2 linked regions of the Homo sapiens genome follow. The protein of the gene in region 2 purifies or fractionates together with the protein of the main gene of each other region. This does not show direct contact. Each region holds a gene or a part of one and is shown on either strand. Other genes may lie near its edges.

Region 1 (4,959 bases), on a different chromosome or scaffold from region 2:
CCCAGGATGGTCTTGAACTCCTGAGCTCAAGCAATTCTCCCACCTCAGTCTCCCAAAGTGCTACGGTTACAGGCATGAACCACCATGCCTGGCCTCTTTTGTTTTCAATTTTTAAAAATTGCCATGCTAATCTTCTCTGTATCATTCCAATTTTAGTATATGCTCTGCCGAAGTGAGCACTTTGGAACTGTTTTCTAAGGAAGGTGGGTTCAGTCACCTGAGAACTTTGATTTACTGGAGATTAGAATCTCGGGAAGGGCTAAATGGCTCCAATAGAGACAGGAGGCCAAGTGAAGGTGGGAAAAGAGAGAAGAGATCCTATGATGGAGCTGAGGAGAGTGACTGGAGAGAGAACAGAAATAGCTACTGGAGAAATCTCATAGAGTAATGTAGATGAGTCATGTGTCCTGAAGTCATCTCCTTCTCTCCTCCAATAAAGTCTACATTATCCACCAAAGCTTTTGAATTCGAATTTGTTTTAGGAGAGATGTACTGAGTTAGGCCTCCAGGTGGGCTTTATTAGTAGCAAGACCAACCAAGGAGGTTCTCTCATTCAATTGTATTTGCTGCCTGGTTCTCAGAGAAGCACTTGTCTTAATGCCTCAATGCATATTACCTACTGCCACCTGGTGGAAGCATATGCTAATTTTAAGATAAGTGCCCAAGTGGGATGAAGGTAGGGGGAGATGCTCAAACTGAAAATCTAAATTTATAAAAAACATATGACTAGTCTCAGGCCGTTCTCTACCTGTAATCTATCAGTCTTCTCATCTGCAAAATGAGGGGCTAAAAAAGTGATTGCTAAGATTTCCTCCATCTTCCAAATCTGTAATTGTAACAAAAATAGATTTCAGGCGGAACTCTAGTGAACATGCCAAACAGTTCTTCCAAACTACAGCATTAGCCTAGTTCTTATCGTCAGCTATTTCTAAAACATATAAAAACATAAGCCAAAATATAGTACTTTATCTATATGGTTAAGTTTACCACTCATTGAAAATTTAATGTCATTTTTTAAAGTAAATTTTCCAGTTAAGATATATAGTAAAATAAGTGCCAGATGAGTGTTTGGGTTCAGGCTGTCACTGTTAAAACAGAAAAAGTGGCTATACAAAACAGAACAAAAATAAGTATAAGGAAAAGAAGTTTCTGAATCAACCATGATAAGGATCAAACGTCTCTTTATTATTAACGCTGTCAAATGTGTTACTTTTTTTTCCTTCTACAGACCCAAAACAGTATCTATACTTACAAGCTGCCAAAATGTCCCTGATTTTCATAGGTTATATTTTGGAGAAGACTTACTCATATATTTCTAAATTAGTTATTTTGTTTTCAGTCACATAGTTGCTTGGGATTAAGCCTTCATTCCTACAACAAAAGAAAAAGCAAAAATCAAAATGCTTGGCATGTTTGTGGCATTATCATGGCAACAATCCTTTTAAAACCTCAAGGATGTAGGGGGGAAATCAAATTCATTTTACTGATTAAATTGTTAAAAGGAGAAAAAAAAGTTTTTTTATTTCTAACTCAACAAAAATCTCTGTACAAGGAATGTATTAAGATGCCAACTTGTAATGTGAGTAGTTTAAGAGGTTTTATGACCCCACAATCTTTTCAGAGAGAAAAAGGGGCACTTAAATGATCATCTGATATCATAGTGATTATGTTAAAAACACAGCAATTACAAAGACATCGACTTCATTCTTTTCAATTGCTGAGGAGTATTCCATAGCATAGGTATTCTAGTTTAGCTACTTTGCTAGTAGAAGCAACGCTGTAAAGAAATCCTTGAACACGCCTTCTTGTACAGAAGAATATTTCTCAAAGACAGATAGCAAAGACGGGAATTGCTAAGTCACGGGATATGTACATCTTTCAGGATATGCAACAAATTGTCCTCAAAGGAGGATATACCAACTTACACACCTATCAGCATGGTAGAAGTTTCACTTTTCCTATACCTTAACCAACATTTGAAATTACAAAAAGATCTCCAAGACATATTATTGAGAAATAAAAGTAAGTTGCAGAATCATGCAGAAAGTAAGATAAGATTTAGGTAAATGAATTCTACAAACAATACCATATATTTTGATATGTGCATGTAAGTATACTGAAAATAATCTGAAAATGGATAATAGTATTTACTTTTGGGGAGACACTTGGGTTTGGAGGTAGTGGCAAAGCAGAATTTTGACATTAATGTTTGCATATTATATATTTTTAAAAACTCTATTCACTTACTGTGAAATAAAAAATTCAATTTTTAAGTCTGAGGCATGCCAATAGTATACCCGCAGGTGTGGCTAATTACACAGTCCTGAACCTACTAATGCCTCTTTTTCCACTGAAAAGTCTCCACCACATGTTGAGAACTGTTAAGAGAGCCACATCATTGAGAAAATGTAGTTGGAGAGGTATGTAATTTACATGCTTATAATACTTAGATACTTAAAATCTCCAAATCTTGGCAAATATCAGAAATCAATGCCAGCCTTCTCTCTCAGGAAGTCCAGATATTCCTCAGAATTCTTCTCAACTCAGGACTCCAGTCAGGCATTAACCATCTGTTGCAATTGGCACAATGAAACCTATCTGCATCCCAGGGTCTTTTTTCTTTCTAATCTAATTCAGCAGCGACTGCAATGTTTGCTTTCAAAACTAGTCATTCTAGAAACATAAAAGTGAATAAAATACTATTTCTGTTCTTACCTTAGAGCTTAACAGGAAAAAACTGACAAATTCCCAAATGAAAGCACAAATTAGAATAAGAACCTACATTGTCAGAATTATTATTTCCATTGTACAAATAAAGAAACAAAAACTCAGAGACGGTAAGTGACTTGCCCGGGGACACACAATAGTAAGCGGCAGCATCAGGATGTGAAGCCAGGTGTATCTGGTTCTGAGACTCTGCCTGAAATCACTGTTCTCTCATTCTCTCACACATCCTGGGGGAGAGGGGACAGATTCCATTTCATGCAGAGGGAAGAGTTATAAGCCTGAGTCACTAAGTAGTCTTCTTTGTGTTGGAAGAATTGGATACTGACTAAGTCATGTAAGTGTCTTACCCCAAACGGTCTCTTGCCTTCCACCAGTGAGGATTGTATTTCTCCAGTATCAGGTATTCTTCTGCTCTCCTTAAGGCTAAATTACAGGGTTCTCTGGGCAGAAAATCATAAAGTGCCTTGACTTGGATCTTCTCTTCAGCAACCTCAGAGGGTGGGAGGGGAGGCAGTGGCTTTCGTTTTGACGGCTGCACACGGCCCGTGTTGGACTGTGAAAACCAATAAGTGAGTTGTTTTACTATCATTTTAATAATTTGTACTAAAAAATATAGGGACAAAGCATATTTGCCTTCTGCCTCACTTTTCTTATCCAGCTACACCAAGGCAGAAGCCAGGATGAGATAAATGTAGAAAAGGACTAACTATAAAACTCCTTTAGGATCCAGCAATACACTCATCATTTTGTACACTTTTGAGATCACAAGTTCTCTTGACAGCATTTTACTGGATTTTTTTTCATATCAAAATTTTCAAAAGATGATGTACTCCTCTTCAATAGTTTTACCTTGTTTTAAGGATTTTTTTTCTCCTTAAAAGAAGAAAAATGGCCTTTTTCTTTTTATGTGGTGGCAGTTTGTGCTTGGGTTTACCATACTTCCTAAGAATGCTGTTTCTCACTGAAGTGAAAATTAATCTCAGCCTCAAAATGACAGAAGCCAGAATATGTTTTTTCCCACTCATTGCCCATTTTCAAGTTCTGCCTTTAAATATAAGTAGCCTATTTTAACTGGTCTTTTCTTTTTCCTTTTACTTTCTTCTAGAACATTCCTTCACAAATTACTGAGCACTTATTTTATGCCAAGCAGGATACTAGATTCTGGGCAACAAACAGCACCTCATGAATGAAGACTCTAAAAAGACAACCTTCTCCATTCCCCTCTTGCCTGTCAAAATGATACTTACTTGCTTCTTATTTGACAATTGGCTGAGCCACGGCCTGCGACGCTGGGTGTATTTTTCTGGAAGCTCTTCATCTGTGCTCAGGCTTATCTGTGTTCTCATTTGTCTGACATTGAAAAGCAATCATGTTACAAATAATTATTTGTACAAAAGTTATCTATACATCCACTAGATTTTCACAGAAATAGCAGAAAAATCCAGGTCTCTTTCCAACTCCATTTTCATTTAGAAGGCTTCCTAACTCCATCTCCCTGGGCAAATTACTGGTTTTAAGAACTTAAGTTTCCTTCTCCAGGAACTAGAGGTGCTAAGAGCATAGAGTTGTTATAAAATAAAATTGAGAAAACATGTCACATTCCCAGTAGAGTCTGGTGCATCTTCAGGGCATAAAGTTATAATCATTGTAATGAAAACTTACTCCATATCTGGCTCAGTGTTTGTCATTTTATATGCATTACCTCATTTGATGGTGTCTTTTTGTTATAAATAGACATGGTATAGTGATTAGGAACAAGAGTTTGAATCCCAGCTCCACCATTTCATAGTGTGGCCTTGGGTAAGCAATGTAACCTCTCTAATCTTCAATTTCCTCATCTGTAAAATGGGGATCATAAAAAAAAAAAGTAGGTGGTTTTGAGAACTGTATGAGTTAATAAACATAAATCTTTTAGCATAGTATCTGATATACAGGAAGCTCCTGTTAAATGTTAGCTTTTTCTGTTAACATGCTGCCTTGGATTTAATTCTTACAGAGTCATTTACTGCCACCAAAGTATAAGATACACCGGTAGTTTTGGGGAGATAGATAACTAAGATAGGATTCTTGCCCTTAAAGGGAAAAAATACGTATTGGAGCACAGACCTATAAACAACATACATGAAATAAAAATTAAGTGGAGAACAATGCCGCACACGGTGGGAATGCAATGGAATGAACAATGAAATCTAAAGGATCAGGAAAGGATCCCAGATGACCTGACATTTGACC
Region 2 (4,959 bases):
ATAAGATCACTAGAAATTCCTGAAGCTGTACTAACAAAAGGCCCCAAGAACAAAAGCTCTCCTGCCAATCTCCAAAGGGAATGTCACCCTCGGGAAATTTAGAACTGTATGCCGTGTCATATGCAACATATGACTGCCTTTACCCATGTATGTGGCACATTTAACAACATTAAACTAACATTTATTAAATGCAATTAATATTCTGCTTGACAACCAATTCTGGCTGTTCGTTTCATGAGTTAGCTAATGAGTTACAACTAATATATTACAATCTTCCGATGTATTAATTTTAATAAGTAATAACCAATGTTCAGAGTAAAGACTGAATGTGTTTTATGGTGCTAGAGAAGACAATGCCTCACAGAAATTTGAGATAGAGTAGAAGAGATAATTTTTCAGAAAAGCTCTTTAAAGTAAATATCAGATAGGAAAAAATTTAAGGTTCCAATATCAACTCCCTTTTCATCTCTCTTTTATTAACTCTTCAGATCATAATACCTTTATATTTTGTATGCCTTCGACTGTGAAATCACAGTTCTTTCTTTCTCTTTTAAGTATGTATTAGTTCTGAAATTACTTTGCTGAAGATTTTGAAATCTTCTGAACATCAATTTGTATCATTTTCTTCTCATTTTTCTTGCATGCTATTGTAAACTTCTTTGTTCATCCTTAGAATATTGGTAATTATATTATTTTTTCATAAAGACCAAATATCATATAAAATATACATTTATTTCATTAATAGAAGATATTGTACACAATGTATTCAATTATTTCTGATGCCATTTTTGTAAATGTATTCTGTTGTCTCTAATAATATTCTGTTTGTGAAATTTAGAAGGAAAAAGTATAAATTTCTTGTAGACAAAAGATAGCTTCCTTAACAGTCAGCTAAGCCGCTCCTTTCAAAAACTTCAAGAACCTTTATACTCTCTTTTATGAGCAAAGTGATACTAATCTGCATTGGACTGATAATGTTGGTCTCTGGAGCATCTCCTCTGAGTTCCTAAGTTGGAGCAGCATTGCCAGTTCTTACGTATGTCCTCATGTTAAATTATGAATTGCTAATAACTGAAGGGAACAGGGTCTCTGTTTCGGAGGATAAAGTTGCATTTGGAATATTTTTCCAAAATGAAGAGCTAATCCAATATTGAGATATCTGTTTGTTGGATAATCCAATGAGTTTGGTGTTTCCTTTATATTCGATAGTACTGACTTCCTTCACTATATGTTATTATAAATGCAAATTAATTATTTCATTTGATTGATTGAACTTAGACTGCCAGTGAGGAGAAATTATTGTATTTTCTTCCAAAATAACTTATCTTGTCATTGATTTTTATTCTGCATCAGAGCAGCTTAATTTTTAAAATGGCCAAAACGGCATCTGCTTATGCAGCTAAAATTCTGATTATTATTTAATTTAACCTAAAATTATATAGCTTCATAAGTAATATCCTTGGAGTTTGTATATTTTAAGAAAGGACATTACATGCACACTGAAATAAACTAATTGGAAAAAGACATGGGATTAAGAATGGTTTTTTGAAAAATAAAAGTATGTAATCAAATACATTTACTTAAATTAAATTTATTATTCATTTCTATGTTGATTCATTTCCACTAAATCAATTCACTATAAAGTCTCTTACTGGCCTACCGAGGATTAGCTCTTTTCAGGCACACAACAGTCCAATGAGATAGGTGCCATTATTACCTTCTGTTTTTAGACAAGAAAATGAAGGCACAAAGTAATTAAAAATCTCCAGCTTGGATCTTTCCTCCCATGAACTCCAGACTCATGTAACCAGAGCTACACTGGACAGTTCCACTTAGGTGTTCAGAAAGCTTCTCAAATTTCATGTATGAGAACTCAGCTCTAGATCATCCTATATAAAATATGCGGCCGGGCGCAGTGGCTCACGCCTGTAAATCGCAGCACTTTGGGAGGCCAAGGCGGGCGGATCACGAGGTCAAGAGATCGAGACCATCCTGGCTAACACAGTGAAACCCCGTCTCTACTAAAAATACAAAAACAATTACCCGAGTGTGGTGGCGGGCGCCTTTAGTCCCAGCTACTCGGGAGGCTGAGGCAGGAGAATGGCGTGAACCCGGGAGGCGGATCTTGCAGTGAGCCGAGATCGCCCCACTGTACTCCAGCCTGGCGGATAGAGCGAGACTCCGTCTCAAAAAAAAAAAAAAAAAAAAAAAAAAAAAAAATGCTTCCTCTGCAGTGTTTCTTCTCTCAGTTGGTCACAGTTACATTCTACAAGTTAGCCAAAATTTCAGAGTAATGTGGTTTGCTTTCTTTATGGCCTATGTTAATTTCATAACAACTCCCGTTAGCTCTACCTCCAAAATCCAACCTTTGTTAACACTGCCATTGATTCTCCTTTGGTATGAACCACCGTCATCTATTCCCTAGGTAGCTTCCACAATCTCCACCTTGCCTCATTTAGTACATCTCAACACAGCAGCTAGAATAGAATGACTTTTTAAAAAATATACAAATAAGATCATGTCACTTCCCTGCCTTACACACACACACATGCATGCACACATATACACACCCCGTCCAGTGGTTTACCATTCAAAGTAAGAGCCAATGTCATTATGGTAGCTTAAAGGTCTCACAAACACTAGCCCTTGTTTGCTTGCCTGACTTCGTACTCTATCTTGTTTCTCTCTCTGCTCCAGTCATATCGTTCCCTTTCCTTTTTATCAAATAAGTCTCAAGCTTCACTTGCCATTCTCATTTCCTGGAATAACCTTTCCTCAGATATCAGCATTACTTTTTTGCTTATGTTATTCCAGTCTTTTCTGAAATGCTGACTTCCTGGTGAGGACTTCCCCAGTCACTCTACTTAAAAATACTTCCTCCCTACACCTATACTTCTCAACTCCCTTCCCTTTGTTTTTTCCCCATAACATTTATCACCATCTTACTTATATGTTCATGTATGTACTTAGGTTGGTCTTTATCTATCTTCCCCAACTAAAATATAAAAAGGCAGGGGATTTTGTCTGTTTGGCTCCCATTGTCTATTATATGTTATATACTTAATAAGTATTTGAGTGAATAGATTAATTAATATGTAAATTTATTTGCTCAAAGGCCAAAGCTAGTATGTGGCAGAGCTGAGAAAGAGCCCCTTCTCTGAACAGGACATTAAGAACTAGGGGAAAGGGGCCGGGCATGGTGGCTCATGCCTATAATCCTGGCACTTTGGGAGGTGGAGGTGGGCAGAGAGCCTCAGGTCAGAAGTTCAAGACTAGCCTGGCCCTCATGGTGAAACCCTGTCCCTACCTACCAAAAATACAAAATTTGCTGGGTGTGGTGGTGGATGCCTGTAATCCCAGCTACTTGGGAGACTGAGGCAGGAGAATCGCTTGAACCCGGAAGGTGGGAGTTACAGTGAGCTGAGATCGCACCATTGCACTCCAGCCTGGGTGACAGGAACAAAACTCCCTCTCAAAAAAAAAAAAAAAAAAAAAAAAAGCTAGGTGAAAGGGAGAATAGGCTGGAAATAAATTATCTAGGAGAAACAGGTTGATGGATAGACAGATCTATCTTTTTTAGCATTGGTTAATATATTGGCTTCCAAGGGTATTCTTTGATTTATAAGACAAATGGAATACAAGATTTGGACTCAGCAATGCCTGCTTTGGAGAAACTTTACAAAAGGGAGAAGAACACTCTTTAAGATGTGTGTGGGTTTTTCAGTCTTTGGGATACAGACTGACATTTCCCACCATTCATAATCTCTCTTATGGGACACAGGGAAGGCAGCTTTCTCACCCCAGTAGTTAGTTTGACACCACGTGGCAGAGTTGTTTTCAATGAAATAGAAGTGATGTGTGCCACTTGCCATTACAACCTCCCAACAACCACTCATGTTCTGTCTTCCCCTCAGAAACCATAAAGGTCTGATCCAGAAATGATGGTATCCCAGTGCTAAAAAGGCCTACATCTTTACAATACTGCTTAGAAAACAGCAAACACTGTTGTAAAATCTATAATGCAAAAGGTTTATTGTAAAATGTCTGTACAATCAATGCTGCTAAGTATCAGCCTTCCCAAAAAGAACAACTTGATTTTTACATAAAAAGTTATGAAATTATTTCTGACATATGGATCCATACCATATAAATGCTATGGCATATGCATTTGCTGCAAAATAACAATGTTCTTAAGGATAACCTGTAGAGCACCATCCAAAATAAATGTCTTTGCACTGTATCATAATTAAAATGGCTTTGGATTAAGCACTTGGGAAGATATGTGGGCTGAAATTTCCTTTGCTATATCACTACTTCTAAAATGTATCATTTTCTAATAACACATAATCCATAACCCCTTTTTGAAATGCTGGCAATTTTGAAAATTTAGAAACATTTATTTTTTAGAAAGATAAGCAATATATTGATCATACTTTAAACTAGGAGGTAGCTTGCTTTAAGGAAACATTCTAAAAAAGCTTGCAATAAAAGTGTCTTAGAAAAAAAGAGATCTGTATTTTGTTGATTTATATTTTATATCTTCCACATATTCTGAATATTATCTTCAAACATTTCTGAAAAACCACAGAAAATTCTATACCTAGACATTTTTCTCTCTCCACAATATTCACAACAGAAAAAATATACAAAATTATCAATTACTAGATTTATACCTAGCAATTCAGTGAAAGTAGTCCTTTTTTATTTACGAAGAATTAGATGAACACTACGAATAGTTTTAAATGCTCAGCTAATCTTCTGAACATATAAGGCAGAAAGGCAGTGGTGACCATTTTTACTCACCACAGGATACACATTTATAGAGACTCAAAAATCTCAATTCTACCCTTAACCTTCATATTCTATTGAAAACAAAGGAAGCAGGAAAGATAAGTAAACCGGAAAGTATGTAGAACAATATATTTGGCTTTTTAAGTCCTCTTACCTTTGCAAGATGAC

The links. Proteins that work in one complex are often made in the same cells at the same time.
Region 1: the proteins of ROBO2 (region 2) and TXK fractionate together in Homo sapiens (co-fractionation; one large-scale study listed by BioGRID). This does not show direct contact.

The regions. Positions count from the first base shown.
Region 1 is NC_000004.12:48,109,233-48,114,191, forward strand, and holds part of TXK (tyrosine-protein kinase TXK), read right to left. Parts: exon of another isoform or gene 4,510-4,959; coding exon of another isoform or gene 4,430-4,509; intron 4,078-4,429; coding exon 3,975-4,077; intron 3,281-3,974; coding exon 3,075-3,280; intron 1,372-3,074; coding exon 1,306-1,371; intron 1,298-1,305; exon of another isoform or gene 772-1,297; coding exon of another isoform or gene 749-771; intron 179-748; exon of another isoform or gene 121-178; intron 1-120. UniProt on the Homo sapiens protein: Non-receptor tyrosine kinase that plays a redundant role with ITK in regulation of the adaptive immune response. Regulates the development, function and differentiation of conventional T-cells and nonconventional NKT-cells.
Region 2 is NC_000003.12:77,637,359-77,642,317, reverse strand, and holds part of ROBO2 (roundabout homolog 2 isoform 23 precursor), read right to left. Parts: intron 1-4,959. UniProt on the Homo sapiens protein: Receptor for SLIT2, and probably SLIT1, which are thought to act as molecular guidance cue in cellular migration, including axonal navigation at the ventral midline of the neural tube and projection of axons to different regions during neuronal development.